Regions from separate parts of the Homo sapiens genome. Here region 2 is linked to region 1. The links come from fine-mapping of genetic effects on gene expression. A gene starts in region 1. The other region holds a variant in brackets. All regions are shown on one strand. Distances are between the middles of the regions.

The links.
Region 2: its variant is fine-mapped to the expression of CNST in whole blood (TOPMed, PIP 0.94).

Annotation. Positions count from the first base shown.
Region 1 is chr1:246,563,643-246,569,023 of GRCh38, reverse strand. CNST (consortin, connexin sorting protein) reads right to left here and starts at 2,568. Exons shown (of 11, transcript NM_152609.3): 1 at 2,361-2,568. It overlaps TFB2M (transcription factor B2, mitochondrial), which reads left to right and starts at 2,763. Exons shown (of 8, transcript NM_022366.3): 1 at 2,763-3,198; 2 at 4,590-4,678. The coding sequence starts at 2,886. RefSeq lists enhancers at 1,964-2,463, 2,504-2,563, 2,794-3,073.
Region 2 is chr1:246,646,542-246,651,922 of GRCh38, reverse strand. It overlaps CNST (consortin, connexin sorting protein), which reads right to left. Exons shown (of 11, transcript NM_152609.3): 9 at 3,886-4,784. Among named protein-coding and RNA genes, the nearest start is that of SCCPDH, 75 kb to the left of the region's middle. RefSeq lists an enhancer at 3,662-4,861. The variant G/A (reference allele first, on the strand shown) is at 3,275.

The sequences.
Region 1 (5,381 bases):
GGTGGCTCATGCCTGTAATACCAGTGTTTTGGGAGGCTGAGGTGGGAGGATTGCATGAGGCCAGGAATTTGAGACCAGCCTGGGCAACATAGCAAAACTCCGCCTTCACAAATAAATAAATATATTTAAATGTAAAAAGCAAGAAAAAAAGTATTTTAAAGGCGTGGTGGCTCACGCCTGTAATCCCAGCACTTTGAGAGGTGGAGGTCGGAGGATCACCTGAGGTCAAGACCACCCTGGCCAACATGGCGAAACTCCGTCTCTACTAAAAATACAAAAATTAGCTGGACATAGTAGCAGGAGCCTGTAATCCCAGCTACTCGGGAGGCTGAAGCAGGAGAAACTGCTTGAACCCGAAAAGCGGAGGTTGCAGTGAACCGAGATGGCACCAGCCTAGGCGACAGAGTAGACTCCATCTCAAAATTACTTCAAAAAGGCAAAAACAGCATAGGATAGAAAACCACACTTCTTAAGAAAAAAGATGGGAAATACTGCACACTAATCAAGTTTTTCTAATAAAGTATGTCTAAATCCTGATCATAAAGTTCATCTTTAAGGTGAAATCAACATTCTCAGCACCTGGGACCTCAGAAAAAAAATAAGATGTACAAAAATCTCTTATTATTCAAGTACCTTCAATTACAAACAAGTGAACCATCAACACTGTAAAAAGGGAATATTATAATGTAATTCTCTTTCCCAAAACCAAGAGAAAATAATAACACTCAAAAGCAAAATAAAAAATGACATCAGTTTTTCTAGGACTCAGTAGGCTAACTTTGGTCCACAAACATTATGAAATAAGACAGTGCATTTTAAAATAACTGTTTTGTTTTTAACCACAATGTGTTTATTTTTCTTTTTCTCTTTTTCTTTCTTTCTTTTTTTTTAAGGAGACAGAGTCTATGTTGCCCAGTCTGGCTTCGAACTCCCGGCAGCAAGTGATCCTCCCACCTTGGCCTCCCAAAGTGCTGGGATTACAGGCATGAACTACCATACCCAGCCACCACAGTGTTTTTTTTAAAAAGTCAGAAATTCAACGACACATTTCTATGAGTGAACCATGAAGACATAATTCTATTTTATCTGATTTAAAAATATTTAGGACTCCAGGTCCTGGAGGGGGAAAAAAGTGTATTTCTGAATCTATGAAAATGTTTTTTAAGGGGAGAGGGGGAGGCAGCTCAGTAATGGAGAGAGGTTCAGAGGATGCAAAGTCACCTCTAGAAAATTGTCAGTGAGAAAACTGTACGAAAAAAGAATTTAAGCAAATTAAGACCAATGAGTGAGTCCCCACAGTTTGCACAACAGTTGATGAGATATTTTCTATGATGTCCTAACAAATTTATAATACACAAAAGGTCATATTTAGTTGTCAATTCTTTATCCGCTTGAGCTTCATCAGATGAGTATAATCTTCAGACTATTTGCTGGGTGATACATTCCTTAGGAACCTTTTCCTCGTGCATTTAAATGCCAAACTCAATTACACTCTCAGTAGAGTAAGCAGAAAGGATTGTACGTATTCTAAGACACGGAGTTGATTGGCTGCCGTTTCTTGCCTTGGTGGTAAGGATAATGGGTAAAAGCTCTAAGTTTGATCCTGAAACACGGAAAACACTCTCAAAGAACCGTGTCTTCTAACATTGCCCAATAGGTAAAAAAAAAAAGACTGCCAAAATTTCCATTACAGCATCCTATTTTTAGTCTTCAAAATTGGGTCTTTTAAATCGCATTCCACAGTACGATGTGTTTGACTAAGTTTACATAAGGAATACAGTAAGCATCCTAAAGTCTTAATCTTTTTAAGCTTAGAAAGGAATTGTAAGCTTTTACATCTTCATTTTTAATCTTAACTTTAAGTCTTTTAAACACACAAACTGAAAAAATTAAGGAAAATATTGGCCCAGAGAGAGGAATGGAAGGGAGACACCACGCGGTTCTTGACAACCAAAGTGGTAGTGATGGGGGGGACCAGGTGTGGGGGGGAAATGAAAACCATCCACGAGGGTGGGGAGAGCGGGCTGTGGGCCACACAACAGAAAGGAACGGAGACCGTGGAAGCCGCAGGCTCCTCCAGGAGCCGGGTGAGGAACGACTTCTGGCGCTAGTCCCCTAGGGAGGGAGAAATTGGCGCGACGCGCAGCAATAGGAGACCCACAGTAGCTGAGAAAGGAGAGGAAAACAGGCGACCTGAGAGGCGGAGGAGGTAAGGGGACCGGGCTACACCTCACCCGGAGGGCAGAGGCTGCGCGGCTGGAGGAGGACAGCGCAGGGGGAGGAGCGAGAGGCTTCCGAAAGGCTTTCCATCCCGGCCGCGAGCCGGCGGGTCCCCTGCATCCCGCTCCTCCTCTCCTCACCTGGGAATCGGAGGCGCAAGGAGGGCTACCGCTGGGCGCCGGGTCTGTTTCCAGCCCCACTCGGCGACATGGCGGCCGACGTGCTGTCACGGAGCTTGCTCGGGTCTCCCCTGGCTCCGGTGGAGGAGACACCTCTCGCCTTTCCGCCCCGCCTCCCTCTGCGCACCCCTCGCGGCTGGCCGGCTGGAGGCTGGCGGCCCGCGACCGCGGAGCATAGAGCACTGGCGGCTAGAGAGGAAGCGCAGAGCGCGGACAACCATAGAGTACGAGTCCGGACACCAGCCGGATGGTCGGTCGCTCTCCTCAACGGTCCACTCACAATCCTCGGGCGGCTGAGCCGAGGCGGAAGCGGAAGTGAGGGAGAAAAGCAGGAAGGCTCCGCTGTTCGCATGCGCAGGCTCTAGTGTTTACTTCCGCTTGACCTGGCCCGGACGCCAGAAAATGTTCCACGTGGGATACCCTGCGTGGGGTTCACTGTAGTAGCTGCACTAGGTGATTCTTGGAGCGGGCCTGAGAGACAAGGACATGTGGATCCCAGTGGTCGGGCTTCCTCGGCGGCTGAGGCTCTCCGCCTTGGCGGGCGCTGGTCGCTTTTGCATTTTAGGGTCTGAAGCGGCGACGCGAAAGCATTTGCCGGCGAGGAACCACTGTGGGCTCTCTGACTCCTCTCCGCAGCTGTGGCCCGAACCGGATTTCAGGAATCCGCCAAGGAAGGCGTCTAAGGCCAGCTTAGACTTTAAGCGTTACGTAACCGATCGGAGATTGGCTGAGACCCTGGCGCAAATCTATTTGGGAAAACCAAGTAGACCTCCACACCTACTGCTGGAGTGCAATCCAGGTGAGTCCAGCTGAATTGCATTTTCTTGGATGTTCATCATTTATTCAAACGTATTGACCCTCCTCGGGGTGCTATTTTAGATACTGGGGGGTCTTTTTTGTTGTTCTTTTGCTTTGAGACGGAGTCTCGCTGTGTTGCCAGGCTGGAGTGCAGTGGGGCGATCTCGGCTCCCTGCAACCTCCGCGTACCGGGTTCAGGCGATTCTCCTGCCTCAGCCTCCCGAGTAGCAAGAACTACAGGCGCGCGCCACCACGCCCAGCTAATTTTCTTATTTTTACTAGAGACGGGATTTCGCCGTGTTGGCCAGGATGGTCTCGATCTCTTGACCTCGTGATCCTCCCCCCTAGGTCTCCCAAAATGCTGGGATTAGAGGCGTGAGCCACTGCGCCCGTCCAGATACGGGTCTTTGTTTGAAGCTCCTTAGTTGGAGAGATTGCCCACTACATAAGCGTAGAGTCTGTATCGTTAATGACACCACAAAGTATTTCTGTAGCAGCTTGCACTTTACACAATATTTTGATAAAACATGCTCTTAGATCTTATCTCCCCAAAAGAGTTGCAAGCCTCTGCCAGCTGAAAAAATGATGTTATCTTATTCTTCCGTGCATTCCCTATAGACCATAGCAGGATGCTAAGAACACAAGATTTATAGGCTTTTTGAATGATAGTTTTTTAAAGCACCATTTCATATCACAGGGAGTCAGTTCTGTTTAGGCTTGACAATCTCTTTGATGGTTAAAGCATCCGTGTAGTCCGTGAGGAAGTGATAGGCTAGAGGCAATCTATTTTGCTGTGACTTTTTTCTTCTAAGAGGTAGTGAATCATGGTGATGAAGAGTGCAAGTTTTGACCTGGTGCGGTGGCTCACGCCTGTAATCCAGCACTTTCAGAGGCCGAGGCGAGTGGTTCCCTTGAGGTCAGGAGTTCCAGACCAGCCTGGCCAACATGGTGAAACTCCGTCTCTGCTTAAAATACAAAAATTAGCCGGGCGTGGTGGCGGGCGCCTGTAATCCCAGCTACTCGGGAGGCTGAGGCAGGAGAATCGCTTGAACCCAAGAGGCAGAGGTTGCAGTGAGCCGAGATTGCCCCACTGCACTCCAGCCTGGGTGACAGAGTGAGACTTCGTCTCAAAAAAAAAAAAAAAAGAGTGCAGGTTTTGCAGTCGCTGACAATGATTTCAAAGCCAAGCTGCATCACTTTTGACGCTGGAGTCAAATAAGTATATATAATCTCCTGTTTCCTTATATGTAAAAAGGAGAGTGACATCTACTTTGCGGATGCTGTCAGATTTAAAAACCAGGTAATAACGTGTGAAACATCTAATGAAAGTTTGGTATTGAAAGAGATTATGTTTCTTGTACAAATAAACTTTTCGTTCTGTTAATGTGCCAGGTCCTGGAATCCTGACTCAGGCATTACTTGAAGCTGGTGCCAAAGTGGTTGCGCTCGAAAGTGACAAAACTTTTATTCCACATTTGGAGGTATATTTTTAGTTTCTCAACGTATGTTATTGTTTGTTCAACTATCTGTGAGTGGTTTAAGGAAATGGAATTAAGCACACAGTGTTTTACATAGAATATCTTTTAGGGAGCCATCTCTGAAATATCTTGTTTATTCCCAAAGACTAGAACACAGTTAATATTCAGTGCTGTTGAATGGCTGAAACATGAGGAGTTCTAAGACTTGTTTGCTAGTTCTAGGTCGGCTACAGCCTAGTTGGGTGACTTTGAACAAAGCGTATAACTGGCATCCCTAGGCTTGTTTCCCCATTTCTACTAAGCTGCGCTGTGCTCCTTTCTTCTGTGAGCTTGGAATCTAATTGGAATAAGTGCTAATATTAGGTTAATGGATCTGTGTAACCTCTATATTTAGGGTTTGAAAGGCAAGAAAGGTTGGCATACAAATTAAGTATTTTATCTGAAATGCTTGGGAACACAACTGTTTTGGATTTCAAATTTTTTCATATTTTGCAATATTTGCATATACATAATGAGATATCTTGGGGATGGGACCCGAGTCTAAAAATTCCTTTTTTGTTCCATATACATCTTATTCATAAGGCCTAAAGGCAATTCTGTATAATATTTTAAATAATTTTGTGCATTAAACAAAATTTGTGTACATTGGACCATCAGAAAGCAAAGGTGTCACTATGTCACCCACCCATGTGAACAATCTCCTTGT
Region 2 (5,381 bases), 83 kb before region 1:
ATAAAAATTACAGAATGAGAGAATAAACGAGTAAATCTTTCCAATGTGTTGTCTGACAATGCACATGTGATCATTTTTTTTCTTAAAAATCTATGAAAGGAGGATAAAATTTTTGATGCTTTTTAAAAACAGTATACAGTATAAACTATACTTTTGATGATAACGTGTCATGCTATTTTTTATGTAAGAAAGAATAGCAATACTTCAGATATTAAGCTATCACTTTACATAGCAAATTACTGGGTTTGAAAAAGCTTTCCAAACCTAGACAAGTTCCCTTTATACATGTCACTATATAAATAGTATAGACATTTTTAGTTCTCTGTGACATTTTATGTAAATTATTTCATTTGATCTGATGAATCCAACTGTTCAAAGCAACACAACAAAACAAGTGCTTGCACTGGGCTGGCAATGATGATCAAAACCAAATTCCACTGGAGCCAAGGCTGGGCAATGCAAAAGTGGCAAGAAAATGAAAGCAGACAGACAAGAGGAAAGGGGAAAGCTGGCAAAGAAAGAACAAACCAGCATGCTCTACCACAAACACAATGGTAGAAAGAGGGAAGTAAGAGAACCTGGGCGGGGAGAAATGATAGGGAGATCTGGGAAAGCGAACAGAGAAGGACCACCTGCGATAGCACAGCAGCGTGGAGGGGTGGAGGGGGCAGACTCATTGCCTCGGGGTTCCTAAGTGCAAGAAAAATGTTGTTCATAATTACTTGGTTATTAAGAGATCATGTTCTATATCCTCTAATCACAAACGGAAGGAAGCATAAAAAAAAATTTCAAAAACAATTCCAGTAAAATCAGCCAAGTGTGACAGCAGAGATCCCCCAAAAGGCCAACAACATCATCTGATTTCTCATTGTATCCTCAGCACCAAACACAGGGAAGACTCTTAATAAAATTTTACTGAAAGCACAAACAGAAAAAGTGTTTGAAGGCCAAGCATGGTAGCTCAAGCCTGTAATCCCAGCACTTTGGTAGGCCGAGGTAGGTGGATTACTTGAGGCCAGGAGTTGAAGACCAGCCTGGCCAACATGGTGAAACCCCATCTCTACTAAAAATATAAAAAGTAGCAGGGCATGGTGGTGCATGCCTGTAGTCCCAGCTACTCGACAGACTGAGGCACGAGTATTGCTTGAACCCAGGAGATGGAGGTTGCAGTGAGCTGAGATCGTGCCGCTGCACTCCAGCCTGGGCGACAGAGTGAGACTCTGTATCAAAAAAAAAAAAAAAAAAAGTTTGAATTAAAATTTTATATGTTCAAATCTAAAAGAAATTTTTAAAATAAAAATCCTAAGTTTGCACTTATAAGCAAACCCACAATTGCCTGGATATTTTACTTGGTCCAAAACCTCATTGTTAAGGTATTAGAAAATATTAAGTATTAGTGATTTTTAGCATTGAAACTTTAAAAACTCCTTTCCTGACAGAGTTAGGCAGACTTTGTTAAACCATGCTTTTCAGAATAGCGAGGGTAGTAAGTATTCAGAAAGCAAATGTTTAACAATCTGCTTGGCATTGTCATAGGAAAGTAAATTAGTTTTGTAAGTCATGTATATGTAGCTTTTGGGGTTCTTAAAATAGCTTAACTTAATAGATCAATATAATCTTAGGAAAGGAGACCATTATGTATTAACTTAATAGAAAAGACAACTTTAAACACATGTAATTTCCACTGTTAGCTGTTACCCAGCAGAAGTGACATTGTGTTTTGAGTCTGAGGAGGGAATATTCCATTTAATTGTAATACGCAACATTAATTTAACAATCTGCCACCTTAAAATATTTTTTCCCCAATATAAACAACTCTTTAATTTCTTAGAAATAGGATGACTCAGTTGAGAACAATTTTAAATTTAGTGATGTGGGGAAAAATAATTTGGGAAAGGGATGTTGATCAATTGTAGGCTTTGGAAATACATGTCAATAGATGACTGAAATATACAGGAGAAATGCTACAGACCTTTGATACATCCACGACAAGACCCTTGTGCATCTTCAACACAGCTGAGTAGGGAGGAGGTTGAAGATAAAGGTTACCAAAACTCAAAGAATTGCTCTGGAGGGGACATCTGGCAAACTAGATGATAGAAATTTATCCAGCCGAACAGCTTTCAGGCAGAAGCAAAAATTGAAATTCCAAAAGTTCCTATTATCCTCCCAAATATGAGTTACTGGGGAAAGATAGTTCTAAAAAGGCACACCATATGATTATCAGTGTGTAACTAGTCAAATGTTGAAATAGAGGAAAACGTTTTATAAGGTGGGCAAGACAACAGGAGCTCTCTGCTTCTTCTTCACAGTTTATACCTAAAAAGGTAAAATTAGACCACATGGGTTCTCCCTTTATGGTCAACTTGATTGTTGGCATGAGAAAGGACAGTCAGACAATGGTAACTTTTTGGTATTACAGCTAAGATTTGAATATGGGTATAAGCTTTGTGTTGTTAACTTCCTGTACCAGAGATTTAGTTAAAATGTACAAGAGAATGAATACCGGATTAAGTGCTATACCATTAGCTCTAATTTTTTAAAAAACTATTTTTAACATTGTGGAAAAATATATATCACATGAAACTGCCATTTTAACTCTTTGTAAGTATACAATTCAGTGGCATTCATTGCAATCAAAACGTGTACCATCACCACCATCTATTTCCAACATTTTTCATTGCCCCAAATGGAAATTCTGTGCCCATTAAGCAATATTAAATAATTTTGTTAAGCAAAAACTACGAAAAAAAAAAAAAAACAAAACAACAGTCTGTAGAGAATTAACTGCAAATGGCAACCAAGCTGTCTGGTTAAAATAAGAGAATGAATAGTAAGCCAAGTGCTTTACTATTCTATCTAATTTTGGCAAGAAAAAAATTAAAAAGAAAAGTCATTGTTTATAGAGAATTGACTATAAATGGCAATAAAGGGAGCTAGTAATATAGCAGCTATAATTACCTTAGACAGCTTTTCAGTCTTCTGTTTTCACATATATTTTACTGTCTACTTTGGCTTTGTTACTTTTTCATTTTCCCCCTTATTTTTTCAATGATAATGCTGATTTAGAACACAATGAGTACAAATGGGACTTAAAAGTGAACTTGGGGGGAAAAATGGTGAAGAAAAGGAAAGGCAGCTAGTATCCTAATTTTCAGAGAAGAAAACAGGCTTACAGAGGTAAAAGGTAACTCCAAGAAGCTGTTAACTACCTGGTGGGATTGTACTGGAACTAAGGCAATCGAATTCTGCTCTACCACACCAGGCCGCCTTC[G/A]TGAGTGTGCTGTAGTTTGGATATGGCTTTTATCTTTTCTTTTTCCAAACTTTTTTTTTGTATTATCAAACAATGAAAAATGGTAATTTTTCCTTAATCTCTTTTTTCAACTTAATATAAGGTTAAAAATTAATCTAGTACCTCTTATATTTTAAAATGTTCCCTCTATTCTTTAGACTATTTTAAAAGACTTAAAAAATATATTAACAAGAGGAAGAAACAGTAAGTACATATCATATTTTATCTGCTAGATGTATGAGAAGAAAAATGAGACTTCCTTATTAGAATGTGACTATTCTGGTTTTGATTCCAATATCTGGAACTGCCACATAACAGTCAGGACTATAAAAAATGGATATATACAATAACGCTCACTCTAGCTGGAGGCATGCAATAGAACATCTTGTAGTATGAACATTGCAATGATTAAAAGTCATTTTATTCAATACATACAAATGTAAAAACTACTAATAATTAAAAGCTTACGTTAACTAGAATTTTCCCTCATGTTTGAGACAAGGGAAAACTTACAAAAACAAGGCAATATTTAATACATATATATGTTTTTTAAATGCCATTTTACTTTTAATTGTACTTCATCTCTGATTTACCTCTGCAATCTCTATCCTTTTGGCAAGATCATCAAGAGAAAGACAGCTCTCATCAGAAGGCAGATTCTCCTGGAGACTATAGGATGCTTCTTCAGGAGAGAGATCTTGAAGGAGATCGGAGTCGTCGTCTTGGTTATCTTCATAGGAAAGGGAATCTTCAGTATCTTTTAAACATCCTTCTAAAAGGCTGTTCAAATAGTCTTCTGTTTCTTTGTTGAGTTGGTCGTCTTTATCTCCCTTTTCCTCTGGGGCCATACACACCTCTGGAAGCAGTATGCCTAAGTCAGATATTTGATTATTTCCACAGAGCACATTCTCAGAACCGTCTGAGTCAGCCTGCGCCTGTGGTGATTTTCCATCACTGTCTGTAAGATCAGGCTGCTGCAGCTCATTTAATTCATTGTTCTCAAGTTGGTCTGTGGGCAACGCCTCAGAAGCATCCCGAAGTGGCAAACGGAGTTCTTTCCTCTGAGCCTGTGAATATTTACCCTCAGAAATCAATGCAGGAGGTATACGGTCACAGCCTGGTGAAATCAACGGCTCTGTCTTTGACTTGCTGGAAAGAAACACCTTAGGGTCTTCAGCAATGCCCTCTATTCTGGCCACATCCTGGCAGGCCTCTGTTTGAGCCAGCTGCAAGCGACTGTCATCCTCACAAGCATCCTCAGAAGAGTCTGGCCCAGACGGGCTCCCTGCTGTCTCGGAGGACTGGGTGTGGAGCGCTAACGTGGCTTCAGCGCTGCAGAGCAGCTCCTCCATGTGGTCCTTTCCTGCAGTTACCGAAAGGCTTGGGGAATCTGTTTGCACGTCCATCTGATGACAGCAGGGACTGCTCCCCAGGGGCTCCACTGTATGTTGGCTTTCTTTACTTGACTCTGTGCCGAGACAAGTTTTACTCTCTAAAGATGAAGAAAAATAAATTGTTAAAAATTCAAAACAACACTTTGTATAGGAAGGAAAAGAAGGGACATATGAATATGTGTAATACAGCAATATTCTAACCCTTTCAAATGGAAATTCTGTCTGTTGCATAATAGTGTCTTTAGGTAGAGGAAATACCCAAAATATTTAGTAAAGAATCCTTATACATAACAGGGATTATTCAAAAGCATGTGAATATGAATAAATCACTTAGTCCTCATTAAAATCAACAAAGTCATTTTCAAAGGTTTAAAAGATATTCTGAACTTTATTAAACTTTTACATTAAAATGAAGTTACAAAAATTATTTTCAGCACATTTAAGGCATGGTGTATGGGGCCAGGCACAGTGGCTCACGCCTGTAGTCCCAGCACTTTGGGAGGCCGAGGTGGGCGGATCACCTGAGGTCGGGAATTCGAAACCAGCCTGACCAACATGGAGAAACCCCGTCTCTATTAAAAACACAAAATTAGCTGGGCGTGGTGGCACATGCCTGTAATCCCAGCTACTCGGGAGGCTGAGGCAAGAGAATTGCTTGAACCCGGGAGGCGGAGGCTGCGGTTACCTGAGATCAC